4 linked regions of the Homo sapiens genome follow. The protein of the gene in region 1 interacts with the protein of each later gene in a pairwise test. Each region holds a gene or a part of one and is shown in the gene's direction. Other genes may lie near its edges. The genes, in order: CCP110, MPZ, MAP2 and DCAF10.

The links.
Region 2: the proteins of CCP110 (region 1) and MPZ interact in a two-hybrid assay, tested with the Homo sapiens proteins (one study listed by IntAct).
Region 3: the proteins of CCP110 (region 1) and MAP2 interact in a two-hybrid assay, tested with the Homo sapiens proteins (one study listed by IntAct).
Region 4: the proteins of CCP110 (region 1) and DCAF10 interact in a two-hybrid assay, tested with the Homo sapiens proteins (one study listed by IntAct).

What each region holds. Positions count from the first base shown.
Region 1 is NC_000016.10:19,540,925-19,547,953, forward strand, and holds part of CCP110 (centriolar coiled-coil protein of 110 kDa), read left to right. Parts: intron 1-962; coding exon 963-1,140; intron 1,141-1,696; coding exon 1,697-1,836; intron 1,837-1,953; coding exon 1,954-2,070; intron 2,071-3,872; coding exon 3,873-3,974; intron 3,975-4,169; coding exon 4,170-4,286; intron 4,287-4,892; coding exon 4,893-4,966; intron 4,967-5,487; coding exon 5,488-5,550; intron 5,551-7,029.
Region 2 is NC_000001.11:161,306,969-161,313,904, reverse strand, and holds the start of MPZ (myelin protein P0 isoform MPZ precursor), read left to right. Parts: upstream 1-3,936; 5' UTR 3,937-3,969; coding exon of another isoform or gene 3,970-3,999; coding exon 4,000-4,066; intron 4,067-6,480; coding exon 6,481-6,647; intron 6,648-6,936. UniProt on the Homo sapiens protein: Is an adhesion molecule necessary for normal myelination in the peripheral nervous system. It mediates adhesion between adjacent myelin wraps and ultimately drives myelin compaction.
Region 3 is NC_000002.12:209,686,033-209,693,061, forward strand, and holds part of MAP2 (microtubule-associated protein 2), read left to right. Parts: intron 1-4,570; coding exon of another isoform or gene 4,571-4,816; intron 4,817-6,592; coding exon 6,593-7,029. UniProt on the Homo sapiens protein: The exact function of MAP2 is unknown but MAPs may stabilize the microtubules against depolymerization. They also seem to have a stiffening effect on microtubules.
Region 4 is NC_000009.12:37,838,781-37,845,809, forward strand, and holds part of DCAF10 (DDB1- and CUL4-associated factor 10), read left to right. Parts: intron 1-3,308; coding exon 3,309-3,506; intron 3,507-7,029. UniProt on the Homo sapiens protein: May function as a substrate receptor for CUL4-DDB1 E3 ubiquitin-protein ligase complex.

The sequences.
Region 1 (7,029 bases):
GGTATTTTTTGTCAAAATATGAATTTTGATATTTAGATCCTTATCTAAAAGTAATTGCATAATTTATCGAGAATATTTTATTGAATCCTTGATTTAAAGCTTAATATTTTAAAAAGGTATTTTATAAATAGGTGCTAAAGTACACATTCTGCAGGAGTTGTATCATAAAAATGACACTCATGCTGGGCGTGGTATCATGAGCCTGTAGTCCCAGCTATGCAGGAGGCTGAGGTGGGAGGATTGCTTGAGCCCAGAAATTCAAGGCTGCAGTGAGCTATGATTTCGCCTTTGTCTAGCCACTGCACTCCAGCCTGGGCAACAGAGGGAGACCCTGTCTCTATAAAAAGAAAAAAAAAAAGAACGACACTTGTTATAATATTATTATAATTAATAATTTAACTATACATTATCACATATTAAATTATAGCCTGGGCGTGGTGGCTCACGCCTGTAATCCCAGCACTTTGGGAGGCCGAGGTGGATGGATCACCTGAGGTCAGGAGTTTGAGACCAGCCTGGCCAACATATAGTGAAATCCCATCTCTACTAAAAAATACAAAATGGTGGTGTATGGACCTGTAGTCCCAGCTACTTGGGAAACTGAGGCAGGAGAATCACTTGAACCCGCAAGGTGGAGATTGCAGTGAACCGAGATCGTGCCACTGCACTCCAGCCTGGGGGACAGAGCGAGATTCTGTTTCTTGAAACAAGAAAGAGAGAGAGAGGAGAGAGAGAGAGAGAGAGAGAGAGAGAGAGAGAAAGGAAGGAAGGAAAGAAAAGAAAAGAGGGAGGGAGGGAAGGGAAGGGAAGGGAGAAGGAAGGAAGGATAATTTGAGGAAGAAAAACTTGAAATAAATAATAATTGCTGATAATTACATGTACTTTTGGCTAAGCCTAAAATGATATCATTTTGGGACATAATTAAAAGGTTTAGCATGTTACAATAAACTGTTCATGTATAGGAAATAGAAGAGCAGGAGAAAATGTTAAAAGAGAAGAAGGCAATGACAGCGGAAGCCTCTGAGTTGGACATTAACAATGCAGTGGAATTAGAATGGAGAAAAATAAGTGACTCTAGTTTGCTGGAAACAATGCTGTCTCAAGCGGACTCACTCCATACTTCAAATTCAAATAGTTCTGGTAAATATTTAAAAATCCTTTTACATTTGGGAAAGTGATCCTACGGTAAGATATTTATTTGGCACACTATAAGATTATATCTCCTGTTTTCAAATGATTCCATGTCCAACCCTCTTTGCCAGCTGCTTAGTAACCAGTGAAAAATGACATGATAGGAGATCAAAGACTTGTGAGCAGATGTTTGTGAACAAAGATTACCTTTGCCAGGAAAAGATCAGGAAATTTGGCTTAGAGCCCAGTCTGATCATTCATGCAGCAGGTGATATACTTCAAGTGAAAACAGTTTGCTCTCTCCTGAGTGATCTTGAATTACCTCTAATTCCCTAGTCCCTTTAAATAGCTTATCTTCATATCTCAATTATCCTGAGATGCTGTTTGTGTTGAAAAGATCCACCTGGTATGTAAGCTTTAAAGTCCATAAATATTTTAAGTCGGCAGGTAGGTCATTTTTGGAGGCAGTTGTTATTCTTAATGAGTGTCACAAGTGTTTATTGGGATGTTCTTCGTATTCTAATTATATGACATCAAGTATAATACTATATGTATGTTTCTCTAGGTTTCACAAATTCTGCCATGCAATATAGCTTTGTTTCTGCAAACGAAGCACCATTCTACCTCTGGGGATCATCAACTAGTGGCTTGACCAAACTCTCAGTAACAAGGCCTTTTGGAAGAGCCAAAACTAGATGGTCTCAAGTGGGTAAACTTAATGATACATGTCCATCTATCTATTTATCTTTTCTTAAGAGCTATATTATCTTAGACTGTATAAATGAACACCAATAAACATTGTGTCTGTCTTCTTTCTCCTAGGTTTTTAGTCTGGAAATACAAGCAAAATTTAACAAAATAACTGCAGTGGCAAAAGGATTTCTTACTCGTAGACTTATGCAGACAGATAAGCTGAAGCAACTTCGACAAACTGTAAAAGTAAGATTCCTGTAAATCGTTTGTATTTCACTTCTGTCTTAGTTTCTATCAGTCTTGTGACAGCTGAGCTAACAGATTAGTTCAGAACTTAAACGCTTTTTAGTCACTGTAATCTAGGCAGTTTTAGAAGTCTGATTGTTTGTTGCGGGAAGTCAGGGACCCCGAATGGAGGGACCAGCTGGAGCCGCAGCAAAGGAATATAAATTGTGAAGATTTCATTTTAATATGGACATATATCAGTTCCCAAATAACACTTTTATAATTTCTTACTCCTGTCTTTACTTCAATTGCTGAACATAAATTGTGAAGATTTCATTTTAATATGGACATTTATCAGTTCCCAAAATTAATACTTTTATAATTTCTTATGCCTGTCTTTAATCTCTTAATCCTGTTATCTTCATAAGCTGAGGATGTAGGTCACCTCAGGACCACTATTGTGTTAACTCTACAAATTGATTGCAAAACATGTGTGTTTGAACAATAGGAAATCAGTGCAACTTGAAAAAGAACAGAATAACAGCGTTTTTCAGGGAACAAGGGAAGACAACCATAACTGACTGCCTGCGAGGTCGGGCAAAATAGAGCCATATTTTTCGTCTTGCAGAGAGCCTATAAACGGACGTGCAAGTAGGGAAGATATTGCTAAATTCTTTTCCTAGCAAGGAATATTAATAATTAATACCCTGGGGAAGGAATGCATCCCTGGGGGGAGGTATATAAACGGCCACTCTGGGAGTATCTGTCTTATGCGGTTGAGATAAGGACTAAAATATGCCCTGGTCTCCTGCAGTACCCTCAGGCTTACTAGGATTGGGAAATTCCACCCTGGTAAATTTGTGGTCGGACCAGTTCTCTGCTCTCAAACCCTGTTTCCTTTTAAGATGTTTATCAAGACAATACGTGCACAGCTGAACATAGACCCTTATCAGTAGTTCTGATTTTGCCCTTGTCCTGTTTCCTCAGAAGCATGTGATCTTTGTTCTCCTTTTTGCCCTTTGAAGCATGTGATCTTTGTGACCTACTCCCTGTTCTTGCACCCCCTCCCCTTTTGAAATCCTTAATGAAACTTGCTGGCTTTAAGGCTCAGGTGGGCATCATGGTCCTACCAATATGTGATGTCCCCCTCGGACGCCCAGCAGTAAAATTCCTCTCTTTGTACTCTTTCTCTTTATTTCTCATCTGGCTGACACTTATGAAAAATAGAAAGAACCTATGTTGAAATATTGGGGGCTGGTCCCCCCAATAATCGTTAATCTTTCTCAGATAATATTATGAATAACATGTAAATGAAGCAGTTTGTGTGTTTTTGACTTGCTTGAAAGTGAGTGGTTTGACTTCTGATAAGTAATAGTTTTATTTATGTTCTTAGTACAGTCGGTCCTCTATCTCTGGGTTCCACATCTGTGGATTCAACGAACCATGGATCAAAAATAATTCAGAAAAAACAAATGATGGTTGTGTCTGTACTGAACATGTACAAATTTTTTTTCCTTGTCATTATTTCCTAAACAATATAACAACTATTTACATAGCATGTACATTTATTAGGTATTTTAACTAATCTAGAGATGATTTAAAGTATATGGGAGATGTGCTTAGGTTATATGCAGATAACTATTTTATATAAGGGACTCCAGCATCCTTGGATTTTGGTATCTGAGGGATTCATGGAACCAGTCCCCCACAGATACTGACGAAAGACTGTAATTTTGGATTGACTGAGAAAAAGAAAAAAGCAAACTCCAGTGATCACAAATCTTTCTAGAAAAATGTTTTTGAAGGAGCATTTCTTTTTTCAGGATACTATGGAATTCATAAGAAGTTTTCAGTCAGAAGCACCATTAAAGAGAGGCATTGTTTCAGCTCAAGATGCTTCACTTCAGGAAAGAGTGTTAGCTCAGGTAAATACATGGATCCTGAAGGCTTTTAAGACATGGACATATTATATTTCTCCTTTTTTATTTAATCACTGAAAATAGGTTTCAATGAAAACTATTTTAATCTTTTTCTATAAATAAGTGTACATGGTATATAGTATTCCTGAACTCTAACCTCATCTTTTAAATGTATACAATATTTTCTTCTCTTGTGCCTAGTTGCGAGCTGCCTTGTACGGTATTCATGACATATTCTTTGTAATGGATGCAGCTGAAAGAATGTCTATTCTACATCATGATCGAGAAGTTCGCAAAGAGAAAATGCTCAGGCAAATGGTATGTTATATGATTTCTAATGAATAGAGTTCTTCTGGGTTTAGGGTAATTGATACTAAATGTCAGTTTTGGTTGACTTCAGCACCCTTCTTCTGATAATTCTTAAGCACAAGTAATTCCTGGAATTACTAGCAGCATTTAAATCTGTAGACAGATTTAAAAGAATTACATCATTTAAGAATTACATATTGTTTTCTTATTGGATTTTAGAGTTGAAGCTTTGAATGTTTTGCTCAGATGGCTTATACAATCTATCAGCTGCTCCTGATTGAATTTCCTTGAATTCAATTATAATGTGGGTTTTGCTTTTTTTGAAATCTGAGTTAGAAAACAGGCTCCAAGTTAATTTGAAGTATATCAGAGTATGTGATTTGAATCAGTTATCTTAGTGTGATTGGCAAAGGAAAAGCAAGCAAAATTTACATAATTCTAATTATTTAATTCTTAGAATTAGACTGCTTCAAAAATACAAAACAAGATGATTTAACTAAATTAAAAATGTTAGTAGAGAGAAGCTTTTCCAGGCAATGTGGGATTATAATACATTATAATATAGTGGTATTAATTGGTTCCAGTAGAGTTTGACGTTACTTTTGTATATTAAAGGATAAAATGAAAAGTCCACGAGTGGCTCTTTCAGCTGCAACACAGAAGTCTCTTGATAGGAAGAAATACATGAAGTAAGTTTTTTGTATCATGTCATGTTAGTTATCAAACCAATTAATTTTAGTCATCTGTTGGTCTATTTGCATATTTAAATTTAGAAATAAAGAGTTAATTTTTCTGCAGTTGAGCTGATAGAAATCCCCTTTATATAAAGAAATTTATTAAAATCAGGTGCTAAAATCTCATTTCATCTTAGATGAATTTATTTACTAAATTTGACAACATTCAACTCATATAACTGATAGCTGGTTAATCTTAAAAACAGTTAATCTTTATATTCAGTGCCTAAATATATTCCTTTTCTGATGTCCTAAAGGTTTCTTGGGAATAAAGACTTAATGGGAAAAATATCTTAATAACTTTTTTAAAAAATTCTTCTTTCTTGAATGCAGTCTTTAATATGCTTAGTACAGGTCTTCCAGTAGTACACCAGCTTCTAAATGATGATTTGTTTCTGTCATCCTGTATTACATTTGTAAGCATGTTTTCTTCCCTTCTCTAAATACATTATGTCCTTATTTTTATATTGTGTTAGAGCTGCTGAAATGGGAATGCCAAATAAGAAATTTCTGGTTAAACAAAATCCTTCTGAAACAAGGTGAGAAAAATCACTTAGTCTTAATGAGAGGCTTTTTGTTTTTTATAGAAAAAAAAAATTGGCTGGGCACGGTGGCTCACGCCTGTAATCCCAGAACTTTGGGAGGCCAAGACGGATGGATCACCTGAGGTCGGGAGTTTGAGACCAGCCTGACCAACATGGAAAACCCCATCTCTACTAAAAATACAAAATTAGCTGGGTGTGGTGGCACATGCCTGTAATCCCAGCTACTCAAGAGGCTGAGGCAGGAGAATCGCTTGAACCCGGGAGGCAGAGGTTGCAGTGAGCCAAGATTGCTCCATTGCACTCCAGCCTGGGCAACAAGAGTGAAACTCTATCTCAAAAAAAAAAAAAAAAAAAGTTAAAAAATTAAAATTTAAATCCCAAACTTCATTTTTGTTGACTTTGTTCTACTTGACATCAGTAGAGCACTTCTTGCTGAATTGGGTCGGGGGTCGTCCTCAGGCTCAAGATTCATACCAATACCTGGCCATATACCTAGTCACATGTCAGACCAGATGTGCCCGGACCTTTTGTAGGACATGCTATCTGTGGTAGAAATTTTGAGCGTGGTATGTCTTGAGTTCAGTTAGACAGTCCAGAGGATCTTTGATACTTATTTAAAAACCTTAGAAAGCTAATTTAAGCTGGGCTGGGAGCAGTGGCTCATGCTTGTTATCCTAGCAGTCTGGGAGGGTGAGGTGGGTGGATCACGAGGTCAGGAGTTCAAGACCAGCCTGGCCAAGATGGTGAAATCCTGTCTCTATTAAAAATACAAAAATAAAAGATACAAAAAGCCGGGTATGATGGCGCGTGCCTGCTCAGCTACTCAGGAGGCTGAGGCAGGAGAATTGTTTGAACCTGGGAGGCGGAGGTTGCAGTGAGCCGAGACTGCACCACTGTACTCCATCCTGGGCGACAGAGCAAGGGTCCGTCTCAAAAAAAAGCTAACTTAAGCTGGGCACAGTGGCATGCTCCTATGGTCCCAGGTACTCGGGAGGCTGAGGCAGGAGGATAGCTTAAGCCCAGAAATTCAAACCAGTATGGGTAACATAGTAAGACCCATCTCAAAAAAATAAATAAATAAAAAATAAAGCTAAAAAGCGAACTTTAATATTTCTGACCTGTTTTTTACTCCTGTAAAATGAGAGTGATACTTTCTTCTCTCACTGGTTTGAAGGGAAAAGTTAGCTTTTGTAAAGCATATGTATAAGAAAATTATCTAAAAGCACAAGGGTTAGTCTATATGTTGGACATTTCTTTGCTGATAAAAACCTAAGGTTTGGACTCTTAGTGAGCAAAATACAAGTATCATATTAATATGCTTTAGTCGATTTGCTCTGATTTGTGGTAATATATAGGCCATATTATTGCATAGTTGACCTTTACCTTACAGTCATCATCTTTCATCCGTTGAAAGAAAATGGGAAAAAATGGAATTTAACCTATTAAATTAATTTTTCATTTAATTTGTCAACA
Region 2 (6,936 bases), on another chromosome or scaffold:
GGGAGTGTGTAGAGGGGCCTCGAGAAGACCTTGCGGACCACCATTCCCGAAAACGAGGAGCCTCATCTAACCACCTCGATTAGACCCCACAATTCCTGGGTTTGAGCTGCCACATGGACCAGGCGCCCACTAGCCGAGGACAATGCTCCCTTGTTCGTTGTTTCAGCGCTATGTGGGTGACACCCACAGCTAGAAGAACCCGGAGTGAGGGGAAGAACACGCTTTGATTTATATATGTGTATATATATATATACAGTTTTAGGGAACCCAAGCACAGGAATCAACTGCCGAGCACTCAAGACTGAAGAAAGAAGAAGAGCAAATGATAAAGGAAGGGAACAGAGCACAAAAGTTCTTGACTCTTGTGGGGAGTAGGGTGGAGAGGAGTAAAAGGGACAGGCTAGAGCAACTCCTATTTCTACAAAAAAAATACTCAATTATATTAATATTCAGATCTTATGTATATTTAGCATCCCTGCACTTCAGGATTTAAATAGCACAAATTCACTTATTTCTGCATCAGATGAATAATACTACTTTGCATTTCTATAATGCTTGACAAAGCACATTCGTACACTTTAGGATTGAAAGAGGCTCTCTAATCCAATCTACTATCTATGCAGGGATCTCCTCTGCAACACCCATAACAGCTGATCTTCAAGACTCTACCCCCCCATATTCAATGATGGGTACCTCAAACAACAAGTTTTATTTAATGAACAACTTATTCGTTAGTTATTATATTTAAATACAGTTTTGTGCTATCGAAATTCCAGTCATTGACTTGGCTCTCTGGAGCTTCACGTTAACAAACCCAAGGAATGCCTTTTTCACTCAGATCTTTTTTGGTTTTTCTTTTTCTTTTTCTTTTTCTTTTATTTTGAGACGTAGTCTCACTCTGTCGCCCAGGTTGGAGTGCAGTGGCGCTATCTCAGCTCACTGCAGCCTCTGCCTCCCAGGTTCAAGCGATTCTCCTGCCTCAGCCTCCCCCCAAGTAGCTGGGATTACAGGCCTGCACCACCATGCCCGGCTAATTTTCTGTATTTTTAGTAGAGATGGAATTTCACCATGTTGGCTAGGCTGGTCTAGAACTCCTGACCTCAAGTGATCCACCGGCCTCGGCCTCCCAAAGTCCTGGGATTATAGGTGCGAGCTACCACTCCCAGCCCACTCAGCTCTTTAAATATTAATAATTTCATTTAGCATGTAGTTATGGACTTTTTGTCAGTCCGTGAAAAGTTCTGTAGGGGATTCAAAGATACAGATGTTTGTACTGTCCCCAAGAAGGTTATAGCCTTAGCAGGATCAATAAAGACATGCAACAAAGAAAGTAGCAACAACCCATTGAAGAGGGTGTTGATAAAAGGGGTGGTTAGATAAAGAGGAAATGATTGCTTACAGTTGGGAGGTGGAGTTAGGTGGAAATTTTGGAGGGGAGAGTTTTGGGGGTTTTTTTTTTTTTGTACTTTGAATTGCTGTTTTATAGAAATGTTGACTACAACATCCTGTAAACATTTGTCAATGATGATGGTTTTGCCTATGGACTTCATAAGCAATCCCATATTTAGAATTCCACAACCCAAATCTAATACTAATGACCATACCCACCAGGGCTGTGGTCTAATGAGATGCCAGGAAGGTACCAGGACACTGTCCTTCACCTGGGTGAGCCTGCAGTGGTCTCATAGCAGGAATAACAATGACCACCCCACTTACATTAACTTCTAGAGGTCAGGCACGGTGACTCACACCTGTAATCCCAGTACTTAGGGAAGCCAAGGCAGAAGGATCACTTGAGTATAGGAGTTCAAGATCAACCTGAGCAACACAGTGAGATCCTCATCTCTACAAAAAATTGAAAAATTAGCTGGGTATGGTGGTGGCTGCCTGTGGCTCAGCTAATCTGGAGGCTGAAGTGGGAGGATCGCTTGAGCCTGGGAGGTTGAGGCTGCAGTGAGCTATCATTGCACCACTGCACTACAGCCTGGGCCACAGAGCAAGACCTTATCTCTGAAAAAAAAAAAAAAAAAATTTTAAACTAGCCCAGCATGCTGGCATGCGCCTGTAGTTCCCAGCTACTTGGAAAGCTGAGGTAGGACAATTGCTTGAGCCTCAGAGGTCAAGGCTGCAGTGAGCCATGATCATGCCACTGCATTCCAGCCTGGGCAACAGAGCGAGACTGCCTCAACAAACAAAAAAACCTCAGCTCTGGTTATGTAGACATCCCCATGGCTAACTCCACCCCAACACCTTCAGGTTCTCATGATGTACCAAATTGAATTCACCTTCTTTCACCTGTCATTTAAGGCCTTTCACAAACTGGTTTCGACTTTCCTGTCCAGTCTCATTTCTGACTATGCCACTTCAAGTTTCCCCAAATCAAGTCAAAGTGGATGGCACAAGATCGGCCCTGAATATATCCAACACTTCAGAAACCTACATCTCATATACATACACACACACACACACACACACACACACACACACACACACACACACACACACATTCTGTCTCTCCGTCTCACCTCTTTGTCCTTGCTTTTGCTGTTCTATCTTCTGGTAACCCTCCCTATCTCCCTTTCCAAAATGACAGTCATCCTTCAAGGCTGATTCATATCTAACATTGCCTCCTAGACACAACTATTCTTCCCTCTGAACTATTTATTTGTTTGATTATTTATTTATTTATTTATTTTTGAGACAGAGTTTCATTCTGTAGCCCAGGGTGGAAAGCAGTGGCACAATCATAGCTCGCTGCAGCCTTGATTTCCCAGGTTCAAGCGATCTTCCTGCCTCAGCCTCCCAAGTAGCTGGGACTACAAGCATGTGATAACATGCCCAGCTGATTTTTTAAAAAATTTTGGTAGAGGCGAGGTCTTGCTATGTTGCCCAGACAGGTCTCAAACTCCTAAACTCAAGCAATCCTCCTGCATAAGCCTACCAAAGTGCTGAGATTACAGGTGTCAGCCACTATGCCTGGCATAAACTTCATTTATTAAAGTTTATTTTGTCTTTAATCTCTCATATAACTTAGTCTTCCTGATATTGCAGCTGTGTGTGCCCCTCTTTTGTACTCCCAGCATTTTGTTCATTACTAAAGGAAGTGTCATGGCTTATTATACTTGATTGTTGATGGGTTTGTCCTCTGATCTTCCCATCTCCACCTCCCCAAACCAAATTTTCAACTCCTTGCTGGAAGGACTTAATTTTTATTCCTCTCTCTATTACCTGCATTCTCATACTTTACATATTGCTGGCACTTAATACAATTTTGTAGCCTTGAAATAAATTGAAATGGACTTAAACAGCAGCATGAAGCACTGAAGGACTTCTTGACAAACGGAAAGGTCAGGGGCTTCTTGCCTGGAAATAGTCCAGTGGAGAAAAACTTCTGTCTGGGAAGAATCGCACAGGATGAAGGGAGGTGCGGGGAAAAAAACTCCCATAGGACTTGGTCATCTCAAGAAGTCTGTAATGCAGCCCACATTAGAGGAGATAACAGGGGATATCCTATTTTCAGAGTTCTCTGGGGGAAACCTCCCTCTAGTTCCTAGGGCTGTGAGGCAGCCTCTCTCAGGCAAGGAGGCTGAGGAGAAATCCCTTTTTATGGCCTTTAAATTGAGGTTCCATATCTATCCCTCAGAGAAGTGTGTCTGTGTCCCTGTTTTTGTCCCTCTCCCTCACCACCCCCCACAACATTCCAGCCTGGGGCAGGGGGAGGCCAGTGGACACAAAGCCCTCTGTGTATGGGGTGGTATGTGTCCCCCCACCCCTCCACCCAGACTATACAATGCCCCTTCTGCTCCCTGCACTCTGCCCCCCTCCCCACCACCTCTCAACTGCACATGCCAGGCTGCAATTGGTTACTGGCTGAGGACAGCCCCCTCATGCTGGGGCCCTAGGGGATTTTAAGCAGGTTCCAGGAACCCCCCGTTCAGTTCCTGGTCCCCCACTTTCTCAACCCCACAGATGCTCCGGGCCCCTGCCCCTGCCCCAGCTATGGCTCCTGGGGCTCCCTCATCCAGCCCCAGCCCTATCCTGGCTGTGCTGCTCTTCTCTTCTTTGGGTAAGTGGAGCCACTCTACTCTGGGAGTCTTGGGACTCAGGTGTCTCTCAGCAATCCCCACAGCCTTTGCTGCACTCCCCACTGCAACCAAAGAAAGAACAAGCAGGAGCAGGAAGGTGACATTATATTCAGAAAGAAAAAATATGCGGCTGGGCATGGTGGCTCATGCCTGTAATCCCAGCACTTTGGGAGGCCAAGGTGGGATAATTATTTGAGCCCCAGGAGTTGGAGACCAGCCTGGACAACATAACCAGACTCCATCTGTAAAATTCAAAAAAAAAAAAAATATATATATATATATATGAAAAGAAAAAAATATGCATTTAGAGGGAGGAAGTAGAGGTTTTATTTTAAAAGAAAGGGTAAAAGAGAGTGTAGCAAGCTTCCCTGAGTGGTGGCCATGGCTGGACCCAGGTTGGAAATAGTAGCATGCCCCCAGAGCCATGCTAACAGCCTGGTGGGAAGCAGTGTTAGATTACATAAAGAAATAGGCTCAAACACCTGGGTTTGGTTCCCACTCGTCCCCTAGCAGTGCAGGAGGTGCCTTAACCTTAGTTTCCCAGAAGGAAAAAGAGAGTGCGATCTAAGTAAGGAGCCCAGGTTTGTGGTCTCAGCTCCTCAGATTTTTTGTCTCTCTATGGCTCCTCACCTGTTGTGTGGGTGAATGGAGTGAGGTTCTATGAGATTCTGGGATCTTATCCCTCTAAAGCTGTCTTCCTTCATAAGCTGACCAGCCCTTTCCTTGCCCCCTGGCAGATGTTGGGTGAGTAAGAGGTCAAAGCAGGATTATTGGAATGGCCCCTTCCCTTCTCTGAACTGCCCTGAATCCTAGTGCAATGAGTGAGCCATAGGCAAGTGGGGGTGGTGGGGAGGACATCAAGGGAAAGGGGGCTGGCCAGAATGCCCAGGGTTCTCTGCTGTCAGCTGCTTGAGCCCTAGACTCTTCTGGGTTGTACTGGGCTATTTGGGGGTACCCTGAGAAAATGTTAAAGATAGAGAGTTGGAGAAGGGCATAGTGAGGGAAATAGGGGGAAGGAATCTTGATGTATAAGGAAGAGGGAGAGTTGTGTCTCAACACTTGTTCCACTCATAGAACCATTGAGCACAGCTGAGAAGGGCAATGGTTGATATTGTAACAGGAGGAATAGAAGTTAGAGCCAGTGAATTATCTCCCTTGTTAAACAAGGGGGATTCCCAAGAAGGTTCTAAGGTGGAAGTTCCAGAAGGTAAGTACATGGTATTGCATGCTGAGGTGAGAGATTCAGGACAGTTGGGGTGGGAGTAGGGGTGGCATGAGCCCCCCAGCGTTGGTCAGACAATGGAACTTTGTTTGGTTGCCACCTCCCCCTCCTGTAGAACAAAAAGGTCTACAGTTGCCCCTCCCTGGGGCCAGCCCACACACATAGTCTCTCTGGAATGACCTTCCTTGTGTGGGTAAGTCTTGGGGATGGCACTGGGCCACAGTGGCCAAGAGGAAGGTGAGGACAGTTGAACCATAGAGGGCTCACATGTAGGGTCATCTGAGCTGTAGGCTTGGGGTGTTGCTCTGCACCCAGCTGAGAGGGGTATGAGGCCCTTCCCTTCCTGACTCTCCAGTCAAGAGCAAGCTGTATGGCAACCAGGGATTCAGCAATGAGGACAGTTGTGCCAGGGAAGAAGACTTATATTTTCTAGTTATCTTCATTTTTTTCTGCAAGAAATCTGAGTTTGCTGTATTGTGAAATCCAATGCAGCTGTTAAAATAAGATTGATATCTATGAATCAACAGGGAAAGCTCCTCCAGATACGTAAGTTCTTAAGCAAAAAGACACTAGAATACAATGCAATATGTATGTGGAAAAAAAAACTCCACAAAACTATTTGTTGTAAGTATGTGTATATCTTGAGTTTATTGAGTTTATACTGAGTTTGATTCATATTAAATGGATAACTTGTTACATCTTGGAAGGGAATACAGGAAAGGAATTTGTTGGGCTAAGTGTCAAAGGAGACTTTTGTTTTATTTCTATTGCTTGAATAGTTTATAAGAAGAGTACAATATGTATTACCTGTATAATTTATAATAAATTTTAAAAATTTAGAACACTGCATCTAAAGGATAGCTTAAAAGTTAGATACTGACCCAAAGGAGAAGTGAGACTTAAAGACAGAACCCAATCTCTGGAAGTCCTCAAGAGAATTCTGTTACTGCTGATTTCATCTTCTCTACAGACATGCTAAAGAGCTTGACAGACACAGCATTTATGCTCATCTGTTCAGTTAGTCCCCAGAGACTTGGGGCTCAGAATTTGTTGTTTCTTTTCCAAATTGGCCTCTGACCTGTGACTCAGCACTTGATTTCCTACTGATCTCACTTCCTCTGTATCCCTTACTGGGCCCATAGGTGCATCTGATTCCCCACTTTGTGCTTGCAGTGCTGTCCCCGGCCCAGGCCATCGTGGTTTACACCGACAGGGAGGTCCATGGTGCTGTGGGCTCCCGGGTGACCCTGCACTGCTCCTTCTGGTCCAGTGAGTGGGTCTCAGATGACATCTCCTTCACCTGGCGCTACCAGCCCGAAGGGGGCAGAGATGCCATTTCGGTGAGTGCCTGGGGGAATCCTGGGGTTGGATAACAGAAAGTGCTTCAAAGAACAACAAAAAAGATAACTTGGGCTAAGGAGGGGGAAATCCTTTTTGAGCCATAACCCCAACTTTGGCAAGGTAAATGACAGTCTTTGTCACCCTGACTACATTGTCCTCCCTTCTCCAGCACTACCCTTTCCAGCCCAAGATCCCTTACCCTGAGGCTGGAGCGAAGCTTTTTTTTTTTTTTTTTTTTTTTTGCTTTTTTCTTTCTGTAACAAATTATGGAGCTAAGCTTTGACAGCT
Region 3 (7,029 bases), on another chromosome or scaffold:
GCATACATGGGGAATTTACAGCCCCAGAGATCCACTGAGAGAAATATGAATGGCTAGGACATGTGACAAGCCAGGGCTATGATTCAGTCAGTGTTGTAGGCCAGATCTTGGACAATTATCTGCTCAGCTGCGAAATCGTGCCGAGTTGAACTAAGAATATCAAACGTTATTTTAGGCTTCTGCTATCCCATGATATAAAAAGCATTGTGGCTGAGAAAGTTCTGAGCATCCATCCAGAAACATCTTCCATGGAACAATCAGTAAATAATGTGCTTGAAAGATTAAATGTATTCTCTCTACAAAATGTTATTTTAGTATCCTCATGATTTCAGACTTATTTCTAGTTGTCAGCACTTGGTTGCCAAAAATAAGTTACTGTCCTAAAAATACAGTATATTTGCAAATTAATGCTATAATTTTGTCTTCTTAAAATCTGATATAAATAAAAACTGTACAGATAGATACTATAGATTTTGTTCTTATTATTGAGAGTCATGAAATTTTAAATTGATATCTCAATATAAGTAAATAAATAGTGATTAGCAAATTTAGCAACCACCACATAGGCCTGAGATGTAACGTCTGCACCACATCAGAAGCCAAGTGCTCACTGAGTTATACGAGAATCCAAATGCTAAGCAGACTGATCTACAGTTGTATATTTAAGGAGATATGTTTAAATAATGCAAATTTCCTAGGCAAGATACAGGAAAGAACAGAAATGAGAGTAGTTACTTTAGCATTTCAATAAGAAATATGCAATAAGAGGTTTGAAACATGAAAAACAGCCAAGAGCCAGTGGTACAAATGAAACTACATGGAATAAAGTCTTGATGAATCTGCAGCCGACTCTGCAGAAATTTTTAGCTAATTGTATCTCTGCTAAGCTTTCAGAAGGAAAACAAAACATAAGAAAACAAGTTTATAATATTAGAGGCTTTCTTAAAACAGTATACTTTTAGTGTCCTGCAAATCAGAACCTGGTTTAAAATGATGCCTCTAGGTACTACATTAGCCTTAGCATCCAAAGAAAGAGCTATGCTGACTGCGCATTTCTTATTAAGGCAGGAAAGAGGCATAATGCATTGTAGATTTTTCTTAACAGGATTGAAATTAAAAATGACTTTCTGGTTAAAGTTATTAACTAGAATTAAATTAACCAAAACACTACTTGTGCATCCTAGATAATTAAGACTATGTTTTAAACAGGACTGTTTTCTTCATAATCTTACAGGCGTTAAATCCTAATAACTTTCTTCTTTTTAAACTTATAAACATATTGATCTAAGCATGAGTAGAGTTAACCTTCATGAAATAATTTCCTCCAAAGAATGCATTTGTTTTGTAATGCTTTGTTTCTATTCCAACGTTCCTTGGTTATTCTGACTTGTTTGAGAGGAATGTACAGATGATTTTTATTTTGCCGCAGGGCTGTCAATGCTTTTGGTTCACTTAGATCAATGGCAAACTTGCTTAAGGGATAGGTGGAATTCAGCAGTTACTGAGGCATGAAACATTCACTGTCTCCCATCCTCCATCAGCTTGATCTTGCTAATTTCCCTTCATCCTGCTGTGCTGCTTCTGTGGCCCTTCCTGCCCTTGTGTAGGTGTTTGTTTCGTCCGTCTGATCTTGTGTCTGTGTTGTCCAGTTCTCCCTGCAGTTTCTTCCTGTGTGTCTGTTTGTAGATGAAGGGGCTGAGGATCAAGTGGGTCCTCTACACAGGTTCCCCAGCCATGAACCTGCCACCAGCGGGGAGAGGCGTGGACTCCTAGCCCCCTCCATCTCAGTGTCTGTGCCTGATGATGACCCTTACAATTCCGATGAGGAGTACTATGAGCATCCTTTGTTCAGCTCAGAACGGACCACCTCTAGTGTGCTCCCCAGTGTCACAGCGCAGAGTGCAGAGGCCCACTTAGGCCAGGAGAAAGGTGAACCAAGCATGGTCCCCTTTTGCTCCTCCGCCCCGGCCTACAGCTTTGACCACCTACATCATGTTAAGTGTGCCTTAATACAGGGTGGGAGGGGCAGGAGCCTGTTTTCTCTGCATGAAAGTGAAGTTCCTATATAAGTTGAATCTATCCAAATGCCTTAACAATTTATATAAAAGAAGCCTTACTAGAGGCATGTGAGCACTTCCTTTTTCTGTATCATTGCTTCTGAGAAGGAAGAAAAAGAGAGAGAGAAAGAGAGAGAGAAGCAAAAAAATATTCCATTAAAGTATGGCTTCTTTCTGCTCCCTGCCAATAATCAGCTGGGGAAGAACATATTCTTTACCCAAACCAAAGAAGATGACTCTGAATATAATTTTTTTCCTCCTTAGACACATAATATTACTATTAAATAGCATCTTTAAATAGCATCTTTAAATAGCATTAGCTTTCTTTTTAGTGCTATATTAATATGATAGATCTTTAAAAGAGAAAGAATGAAGAATCTGTTTAGAGCAGAATAAATGTTATGGAAACAATTTATTTCCCCATATCATGTAATCATCTACAGAAACTACAGAGGCTTCCCCAGGTGACTAAATCTTGGCTCACATCAGTAGAGCTGGACTAAAATGAAGGAAATGATTCAAAGCCTTTGTCATTCTAGCCTTATAAAGCTGGGAGACTCAAGTGTATAATTGGTTATCGTGAGGATAAAATAAGTAGGTGATGGGCTGCAATGTGTCTCATTCTAACTAGGTAGTTTTGGTAAAGAAAAAAAAGGTACAGCTAAATATATTTTTGCTTAGGCGAAGAGTTTATTTCCAAAAGGGACAATATTTAATATGAAAGCAGATAGTTCTAAAGCAATAAGGAATAAGCTTACAGCTCACCAACTATGGTCATCATAATAAACGTCTTCAAGGACCCTTTTGAAAACAGAACACCAATAGCTCAGGTTCTCTGATAAAGAAATATAACCCCTATTAAGTGAAACTAAGTTCTTCTAAACTAAATTTCTAAAATATGTGAGTTTTTAAATTAGGAACAATTGTAGTGGAAATAAATATGATTTATACTAAATGAGAAAATGAAAAGCTAAAAAGCTACATGGATTTGAAAACATGTAAATTAACTTGATTAGACTTTATCCAAAAAGGTAACATTATAATGCAGTTATATTAAAATTCTTTTAACTGTAATCAAAATCTATGGCATTATAAAAATTTTCTTAAAATAACAAGTTAGAATTTAAATTTTTAAAATGCTACTTAAAATGCCATAATTAAATTACAAAACTAAAAATGAGTGCTAAATGTGAAGAGATTGATAATGTAGATTTTTTTTTCTCTCTCTGTTTCTCTCTGAGGATATTAATATTTCTAAAAAACAAAATAAAAGAAAATTCCTTTTCTTTTTATCTGTAGTCTTTCCCTCAGGGCCGTTTAAACAATGCACAATTATTTCATAAGAATTTTGTAAGAATCTTCCATTTACAAAACTATAAAACAGCTCATATATTTCTCTCTAATTCCTTAAGTGACCAAATGGAATTTACTTATTTTTACTGACATTTCAAGTGTAAATGAGAAACAAATTAGTGCAATAACTCATGAACTTGAAAAGTTTATCTTTACATCTTAAATGTTAACTTTTTTATGTGATATACATGGTTTGGGGGGTGGTTATTTTGGCCGTTTGATTGCCACTCAATTATCTTTCCTTGGTGATTTTGTTTTGAATTACAGAAATAAGACTTTATTACTAATGTGCATATTTTTTCTTTAGTGTCAAAGAGAATTATACATGAACTACATTACTGATATTTCAGGGAGTTTAACAATATGATAATAGTTGTGTCCCAGAGGTAGACTTTTGTAAACAGATTTAAATTTAACCTTGACCTTGTTTTTAACACATTTTATTTTACTTACTTTTTGAAAATGTTCATTTTCTCCAACATCATACAATGCAATGAAGCTAACATAACTTGACTTAGGTAGTCCCTTACCTTGGAAATGCTAAATAAATTATATTTTAAGTAAATTTGGTGGACTTTGTGATAAAGCTGTTAAGGTAGTTGGTTGGATATTCTTTTGAAGCAAGGCTTTTTTTATTCCCAAAGATTTCTTTAGCAAAATTTGCACATTTTAAATAAAGCAGCCGGGAATTCTTATGTAGGGGCTTCCTGCATTGGCGAAAACAGCACATGTCTAACAAATTTAAAGGCTTTTTTTTTTCAGTACATCAGTACATCCATCTTTTCACAACCATCTGTTATCCGGCAGTACCATCTCTTATTTCCAGCAAGCTTTCCACATGCGTGCAACTTACTGCCGTTTCCAATAAGGGTAATCAATCAATACAACCCTTTCAGCTCTCAAACTTTAAAATAAATTGCCTTTTAATGAGACTTTAAAAGTCATCACTATTAGCAGATTATACATCATAGTTTTCCAACCAGTACCTAATGTATGTTGCATTAGAATATTAATTTGTTCATCCCAATGGTAAAATAAAAAAACAGCTGAGGTCTTCATGAGGTCATTCTAATGGAGCTGAAAGTGTTCCTTTAGCAATATTTCTGTCGTTTCATGTATTGTTCTGTGGTCATGATGTCAACATCTTTTTCATCCCTAAGAAGAAGAAACGCTAGAGAGTCGGATGGCTGAGGAAGAGAAACCTGCTGCTCTTCCTGAGAAAGAGTGTGGGGCTGCTAAGTCCTCAGACCAACCCAAGGGCCTCAGTAAGGGCCAAATGGAGTCTAGTGCGGAGGCCCAAATAGTTCCCGAAGAGAGTGCCCCAGCAGGGGCCCCACATGAGAAAAGTGTAAAAGAGGTCAAGGAGGTGTCTCCAGAAGTAAAAACCCCTTCCTCTGCTGGGGAAGGTGTGTCTTTCTCAGGATTTGCATGTGTTTTGTTGCAAATGATCTCTCCAGTGGCTTACCAACCTGATGCCTTTCCAACGCTATTTCGCTATTTCATCGCTGGGTCTTATGATAACAAGTCCACTGTTGTAGGCTTAATGTGCAGAGAGTGTGGCTTGCGCAAGTGCTGTGTGGCAGCTGGTTTTCCAGTGCTGCAGCTGATTCCTGGTTTTCCTTTGCCATGATACAATACGCTTTGCAGCCAGGCTGATGATGCTATGTGAGCTTCTTTTTTTATTTTATTTTTTTACCCGCCCCCCCTCATCTCAAATGTTTGCCAGTCACATTGCTAATACATGTATATTTTTGTTTTTATTTTGGGGACAGCAATTCATATGCTTTTATTTCAAATCGTACAGTTGGATTTTGGCACATAGAGGCTTAAATGGTGGAATCGTTTTTGTTTGCAACCGAAATGTGCTATATTTTTTATGCTTCAATGAATACTGGTTTGATTTTCTTGACCTCCTGCTGATGCTTCTCATATCATTTTCTCCCCATGGCAGCCAGCCCTTCTGATCATCCCCATATCTCTTGAGTTTTCATTCATCTAACCTTTATTAGAAGTTCATCAAGTATTTTTTTTTCTATTGTTACAACAGGACACATAAGTATATAAGGTAATGATGATCCATACACTTGCTCTTTTAGAGATGATTGAATTTTATTATTTTTCCCCAAATCTTTTCCAGATAACTACATTTAGCTCTAATGACCACAGTGAACTACTTTGACCTTAAAACACAAGTGGGACAATAAAGCCTTTTGGATTGTTGAATAAATAAAAGTAAAAATGTGTTATCTAATTTCTGTGAAGCACCTCTAAAGCCAATACTGGCCAATGCTTCACCAGTTAGTCATGCTCCAAGGATTGAGGTCATGACCATGGGAATAAAGTTATTTCAATAGTTGACTCTTTTGAAAAGTTTGTTACTCACATGACTTCCCAGTATCAACAGTGTAATTCAGATTTTCTTATATCTACCGTACAGACTAAGTAATGATTAGGAATTTAAATTTTTAAATATGTAATAGAAACTGGCTTGTAAATTCTTAAGTCATATCATATAAAATTGATAGCAAATATTTACTTATATTTCTGAAATTTATCCTCAGATGAATTCTAAAAATTTATGCCAGTAACCTGTGGATGCCTAAAGAATTGGCCCTGACATTTGTTAATCAAGTTAACTGCAACTATTAACATTATATCATTGTGCATTACTTGGCCCTCTGCCCATAGCCTACCAATTCATTTTTAAATGATAAAACCAATGAAAATGTTCAGTATAAATCAATTCTTTATCTATATTTAGTCCTTACTATATATTCTTTTGTACCCTAACATTAGCTGCTTACTCAATATTCATTAGCTTATAACTTTTATGTATAGAAGGCACATGAATTTGTTTCTTCTGTAATACACATCACATAATGTTTAGGAGAGACCAAAAAAAAAAAAAACAAAGAAAAAAAGAGAAAAGAATATCCAGAAATATACTGTTCTTACAATTCCTTTGCACATTAATTTACAACCAGAGTTCATTTTAGTAATAGTACACATATATCTCAGTCCTGACCTTTTCATATTGACTTTTACATGGGTAGCATGCTTGCATGTTCCATAATTTTTGTTTTTATTCTACCATTCATTTATCACTTCAAAATATAATTTTAAGCTTATTTCCTGAACGCACTTGCCTATTATTTGTTTAAAAATCAACCCGATTACTTCAGATTTACTTACAGCCTCGAAGATGGAGTTCCACGATCAACAGGAATTGACTCCCTCTACAGCTGAGCCTTCAGACCAGAAGGAAAAGGAGTCAGAGAAGCAAAGTAAGCCTGGTGAAGACCTTAAACATGCTGCCTTAGTTTCTCAGCCAGAGACAACTAAAACTTACCCTGATAAAAAGGACATGCAAGGCACGGAAGAAGAAAAAGCACCCCTAGCTTTGTTTGGGCACACTCTTGTTGCCAGCCTGGAAGACATGAAACAGAAGACAGAACCAAGCCTTGTAGTACCTGGCATTGACCTCCCTAAAGAGCCTCCAACTCCAAAAGAACAAAAGGACTGGTTCATCGAAATGCCAACGGAAGCAAAAAAGGATGAGTGGGGTTTAGTTGCCCCCATATCTCCTGGCCCTCTGACTCCCATGAGGGAAAAAGATGTA
Region 4 (7,029 bases), on another chromosome or scaffold:
CTCTGGAGGCTGAGGCATGAGAATCACTTGAATGTAGGAGGTAGAGGTTGCAGTGAGCACCTGGGGGATAAAGCGTGACTCTGTCTCCAAAAAAAAAAAAATTAAAAAGAAAAAAGGTTTCAGTTCTTCATACAGTGAACACTATTCAGCCATTAAACATGATTTTGTTAATAAACCTTTAATAATGGCAATATGTTTTTGAGATAATATTAGGTTTAAAACAGAAATTAAGCTAAACATCAATAAAGTGGTTATTTTTGGTGATGGATTTTTTTTTTCTTTTTCTTTTTTTTGAGACGGAATCTTGCTCTGTGCCCCAGCTGGAGTGCAGTGGCACGATCTCAGCTCACTGCAACATCCGCCTCCCGGGTTCAAGCAATTCTCTGCCTCTGCCTCAGCCTCCGAGTAGCTGGGATTACAGGCGCCCGCCACCATGCCCAGCTAATTTTTTTTGTATTTTTAGTAGAGACAGGGTTTCACCATCTCGGCCAGGCTGGTCTTGAACTCCTGACCTTGTGATCCACCCGCCTCAGCCTCTCAAAGTGCTGGGATTACAGGCGTGAGCCACTGCGCCCAGCCGATTTTTTTTCATTAAAAATATTTTCAGTAGAAATGTTTTTTGTTATCGTTATTTTTAAAATAAGAGATGGGGTTTCGTCATGTTGCCCAGGCTGGTCTCAAACTCCTGAGCTCAAGTGATCCATCCATCTTGGCCTTCCAAAATGTTGGGATTATAGGTATGAGCTACCACGCTTGGCCAGGAAATGTATTTTTATAATTAAAAAATAGTTACTGGTAATCACCATAGAATAAATCCATAATGTATTCCCTAGTCATCTCTACTTTCCCACACACAGCACTCCTAACTGCTGCTTCTCAGAGGGCACCATCCGCTCACATGCCTGTGTATCTTTGCTTAGTAACCCTGACCACTTAGGGAGTTCCTGCTCATCTTTTATTCAGTTCAAATGATAACATCATGAAGTCTTTCCCAGCCACCCTCTTTGCTTATTCCACACAATTATTTCGTGTAATTATGTACTTACAGTGTCTTTTCTGCTAGGCAGTGAACTTCTCTTTCATTTATTTTGTAAGTATTTGTTGAGTGCATATGTGTCTGGCACCATGTGTATTGTATACTGCAGATCTAACCATGACCCTAGGCAGACAGGTTCCTTCTGTCTTCAGGGAGTTTACAGTAAAGTTGTTCCTTACAGTATAATATTAAGTATTATGATAGAAGCTCCCAGAATGCTTTGGGAGCTCAGAGAATTGGTAGGTCTACCAGGCTGGTTAAACAAGGAAGGCTTCCTGGAGGGCATAACAGCTGAATACAGTTATATGCCACATAACAACATTTCAGTGAGTGACACCATATACAACAGTGGTTCCAGAAGATTATAATGGAGCTGAAAAATTCCTATTGCCTAATACTTACTATGTTATACTTATTATTGTTATTTTAGAATGTACTCCTACTTAAAAAAAAATTAAACTGTAAAACAGCCTCAGGGAGGTTCTTCAGGAGGTATTCCAGGAGAAGCCATTGTTATCAGGAGATGACAGCTCTGTTCCTGTTATTGCCCCTGGAGGCCTTCCAGTGGGGCAAGATGTGGAGATGGAAGACAGTGATATTGATGATTTTTACCCTGTGTAGAACTAGGCTAATGTGTGTCTTTGTTTTTAACAAAAAAGTTTAAAAAGTAAACATTTTAATAGAAAAAAGTTAATAAAATAAGGCTATAAAGAAAGAAAATATTTTTGTACAGTTGTACAATGTGTTTGTGTTTAAGCTGTTATTACAAAAGAGTCAAAAGTTTAAAAAATTAAAAATTCATGAAGTAAAAAAAGTTATAGTAATCGAAGGTTAATTTATTACTGATGAAAAATTTTTAAATTAATTTAGTGTAGCCTAAGTGTACAGTCTTTATAATGTCTACAGTAATGGACAGTAATGCCCTAGGCCTTCACACTGACTCACCCCTCACTCACTGACTCACCCAGAGCAACTCCCACGCCTGCAAGCTCCATTCATGGTAAGTGCCCTATACAGGCGTAACATTTTAAATCTTTTATACAGTACTTTTACTGTATTTTTTCTATCTTTCAATATACAAATACTTACGATTGTGTTACAGTTGCCTACAGTATTTAGTATGGTAACATGCTGTGCACATTTGTAGCCTATGAGTGATAGGCTATATACCATATATACCATATAACCTCAGTGTGTACCATCTAGGTTTGTGTAAGTTCATTCTATGATGTTCACACAACAACAAAATCACCTAAGGACACATTTCTCAGAATGTATTCCATCATTAAGTGACACATGATGGTATTAAAAAGAAAGCAAGAATTAGCCAGATCCAGGGGCAGGAGGAAGGTTGTTTCACCTAGCAGAAACAACCTGTGTAAACGCCTGGTATTTGAAAACCGTGATCAATTTTAGGAAGGTCGTTATGGTGTTTGTGGATATTGAGGTTGATTTCTGACAATTATATGTAAATTTATCTTAGAAGAAGCACCAGAATTCATTTCTTCTGTAAGAGATTAGGATAACAGCATGTATTACAGAAAGCATCCTAATGTTAAATTAAGCAAAAATTCAAGTGTGAATAGTAGTTTATTTTTTAAGTATTTGTATTAAATATATTCTCACTAAGGATTGAGAAGTTAGTGTAAAATAATAAAAAGTCTGAATTATAGAGTATTTTAAGCCTATTTTGTAATTTTCTTGATTGGTCCTAATAAAATGTTGCTAAGAGATTATTTGGGAAATACCTTTCAGTTAAAAGATTTAAAATAATGGCAATTTTATAGCAATTTTTGTATGTAACTGTGTTCTAAATAGAAAAAGATGTTCCTTGTAGCAGAGCAAATATTTCTCATGATTTTGATTATGTGTAATGTGTCCCTCTCGGCAATCAAGTCTTCAAAACTTCCTCTATCGCCTATTAAATTCTCTCTCATCATTTTTGTTTCCTATAGAGATTCTGAAGTTCTTTTTTTCCCTTCTGTCACTGTTTTCCAAACACTTACCCCTATTTCCAATTTCAAATAAAAATCAGTAATTTAAAGCAAATGGATCCAATTGCAATATGACTGTCATTAAATCATAGTATCCTGGCTCTGTGATTATGCAAAGTATACTTTTTATAGTATATCAGTCATTGGGTTTACATAGTGAGTGTGTAGTCCTTTTTTTCTTTCTTTCTTGACTAGGTAATATAGTGACTGTTTCTCAAATCAATTTTCCTTTAAAAAGAGATTAAATGAACCAGGGTTTTGTTTTTCTGCTTTTATAGATTTCTTGATAACCGGCTGTTTGCTACCTGCTCTGATGACACTACAATAGCACTATGGGATCTGAGAAAATTGAACACCAAAGTATGCACTTTACATGGTCACACTAGCTGGGTGAAGAACATCGAATATGATACTAATACAAGACTCTTAGTAACATCAGGATTTGATGGAAATGTCATTATTTGGGACACTAACAGGTTTGTGAATAGGAGACCATGTTAGGATTATGAACAAAAACATTTTTTTTAAAGATGGTGAACAAATTCAGTGTTCTGTCCTAGCCTCAAGAAGGAAACTGGCTTTAGGAAAAGCAACCAAAAAGTGATGATATATTTTGTTAATTGTACCTAGTCATATATTGCAACTAAAAATTTTGGGGAAAATTATACAGGAAGGAGACCAAGTAGTATAGTTAATGATGAAAACTGGCTTATAAAAAAAGAGTTTCCTGAATTTAAGGAAAAATATTTTTGTTATTTCTCCTGTGAAACTAAACTGTTTCTCACTTTTTCTTCCCTCAATTCTACATATATTTATTTTGCAATTTTTGTTCTTTGTTTTCATGCATTAAAAGAGTAGTTCTCATTTGGAATGGTACTGATCTCAAAGGGAATGTTTAGGAATAAAGCGTGGGGCAATTTTGGTTGTCACTATGGGGGAAGAGAACTATCTACTAGCATGTAGTCAGCAAGGACCAGAGTTTCTAAACCTCCTGCAGTACACAGGTCAGTGTGCACAGTGGACTAGTTGTCCCACCTAAAATGCCAGTTATGCCTCTGTTGTGCAACATTCCAACAAAATGTCTCCTTATAAAGAAATTGATATTTAAAGAGTTGAAGTTTGAAAAACAATTAAAATATGCCTGCTTTGCTAGCTATGGTGAAATGATAATATAGTAAACACACCATGATCATTTCTGTGTATATTTGTTTTTGTTGTTGTTTTTGAGACAGGGTCTCGCATTGTCACCCAGGCTGTAGTGCAGTGGTACAGTCACAGCTCACTGCAGACTGGATCTCCCAGGCTTAAGTGATCCTCCTGCCTCAGACTCCTGAGCAGCTAGGACTATAGGCATGAGCCACCATGCCCACCTAATTTTTTATTTTTTGTAGAGACGGGGTCTCGCTATGCTGCCCAGGCTGGTCTTGAACTCCTGGGCTCAAGTGATCCTCCTGCCTTAGCTCCCAAAATACAAGGATTACAGGCATGAGCCACTGTGTGTGGCCATCATTTTCGAAATATTCTTTTTAGAGGTCATATGTAAAAAGAGAGGGGCTATTCTTGGAGATTTCTAGCTACCCATACTCTTTGAGTGGAAGGCAAAAACTATTGGTTATCTTTAGACAAAGACAAGCATACCTACTAAATGAATTTGTTTACTAAAATTTAGAAATAAAATTTGAATAGAAATATAAATGTAACTTCCAAATTAGTAGAGGGTAAAAAACTAATAAAACATGATCAATCCCATAGAAGCAGAGAAGGGAAGGAAAAAAGATAATTATTTAAAAGAACAGGTAAATTAGGAAGCACAAAACTAGTCATATACTGCAACTAAAAAGTTGGAGAAAATTATACAGGAAGGAGACCAAGTTGTATAGTTCATGATGAAAACTAGCTTACAAAATAAATTTCCTTAATTTCAGGAAAAATATTTTTTGTTATTTCACAAAGCATAAAACTAGTAGGCAGATAACCTAAGCTTTAATCCAAATATTAATAACTGTGATAAACGTATATGGGCTAAACTGTCCAGTTAAAAATAGACAGTGTTAGATTAGATTAAAAATAAAACAGAACTGTATTTTCTTTGTAAGGGACACAGTTAAAACATACAAACCTAGAAAAGTTGAAAGTAAAAGGATGAGAAAAAACAAACAATTATACGTCAAAGACAAAACAGTTGTGGCTACATTAATAGCAAACAAAATAAAGTTTAAGACAAAAAGCATTACTGATAAAAAGGTACTATAACAAAAGATTAATTTCACTAAAATATAAAAGCTTGTATGCGCCTAAAAACATAGCATAAAACTATAAAAAGTAAAAGTGGACAGAATTACAAGAAAGAAGTGAGAAATCTCCATCTCAGTGGAAAATATTAACAGCATTCTCTCATTTACTTATCTAGATAAGATAGACAAAAATGGGCCGGGCATGGTGGCTCACGCCTGTAATCCCAGCACTTTGGGAGGCTGAGGTGGGCAGATCACTTGCGGTCAGGAGACCAGCCTGGCCAACATGGTGAAACTCCATCTCTACTAAAAATACAAAAATTAGGCCACGTGTGGTGGCTCACACCTGTAATCCCAGCACTTCGGAAGGCCGAGGTGGGTGGATCACCTGAGGTCAGGAGTTTGAGACCAGCCTGGCCAGCACGCAGAAACCCCATCTCTACTAAAAATACAAAAATTAGCCAGGCGTGGTGGCTGGCACCTGTAATCCCAGCTACTTGGGAGGCTGAGGCAGGAGAATCACTTGAACCCAGGAGGTAGAGGTTGCCGTGAGCCGAGGTTGTGCCACTGTACTCCAGCCTGGGCCACAGAGTCAGACTCTGTCTCAAAACAATAACAACAGCAACAACAAAAATAAATAAAACACAAAAATTAGCAGGGCCTAGTGGCACACGCCTGTAATCCCAGCTACTGAGGCAGGAGAATCGCTTGAACCTGGGAGGCAGAGGTGGCAGTGGGCCAGCCTGGGTGACAGAGTGAGATTCTGTCTCAAAAAAGAAAAATAACAACAACAACAAACAAAAATGGATAAGGCTGTGGAAGATTTAAATATTATTAATAAGCTTGATGTATTACACATATTTAGATTTCTGCTACCAACAACTAGTGAAAACATCCTCTGAAGCAAACTTAGAACCAGTACAAAAATTGAGCATGTACTGAACTACAAAGTAGGTTTCAGCTGGTACCAAAGAACTATTATCACACAAACCATTTTCCCTGTTCTTAGTATCATTTAGTTATTAATTAAAAATTCTCATGTTTAGAGACTTATAAACTCACTTTTAAATAATTTATGGATCAAAGAAGAAATCATACTGAAGACAGGTTGAAAATTGATGAACTAAGCATCTTACTCAAAAAACTGGAAAAAAGTAAAAGGATAAACCCGATGAAAGTAGATGTATGGAAATGATAAGTGTAAAAGCATAAAATTGATGATGTCAAAAATGAAAATATAATAGAGGATTTTTAAAAGCCTGCTCTTTGAAAAAAGCTAATTGAATAGGCAATTCTCTGGCAAGATTCATCAAGAGAAAAAAGACATAAATAACTAATATCAGCAATAAAAAGGAGACAACAATATAGAAGAAGATGATAGATGAGCTTTATCCCTATATACTTGAAAACTTTGATGAAATAGCCAGTTTACTAAAAAAATACACCTTAGCAAAACTGGCCAAGGAAGAAATAGAAAACCTGAAATAGACCTATTACTAGGACTAATATTTAGCCAATATGTACTGGTTCAGCTGAAGTACTGTTAAAAGATTGAACTTCTTCCATACCAATTCGTAAATAGGCACTGCCCTGAGTTACCCTCTGACACCCTCTGACTACCCAGGCCCCTCTTCTAGAGATACCTCCCACAAAACCTTCCCATGATTCAGCAGCAAAAGTCCCCCTTACACAATATGGCGATTCCAGGACCCTGTTCCAGCACAGCCATCTGCATCTATTCTGACTGGCAAGTGTTCATGCGGTG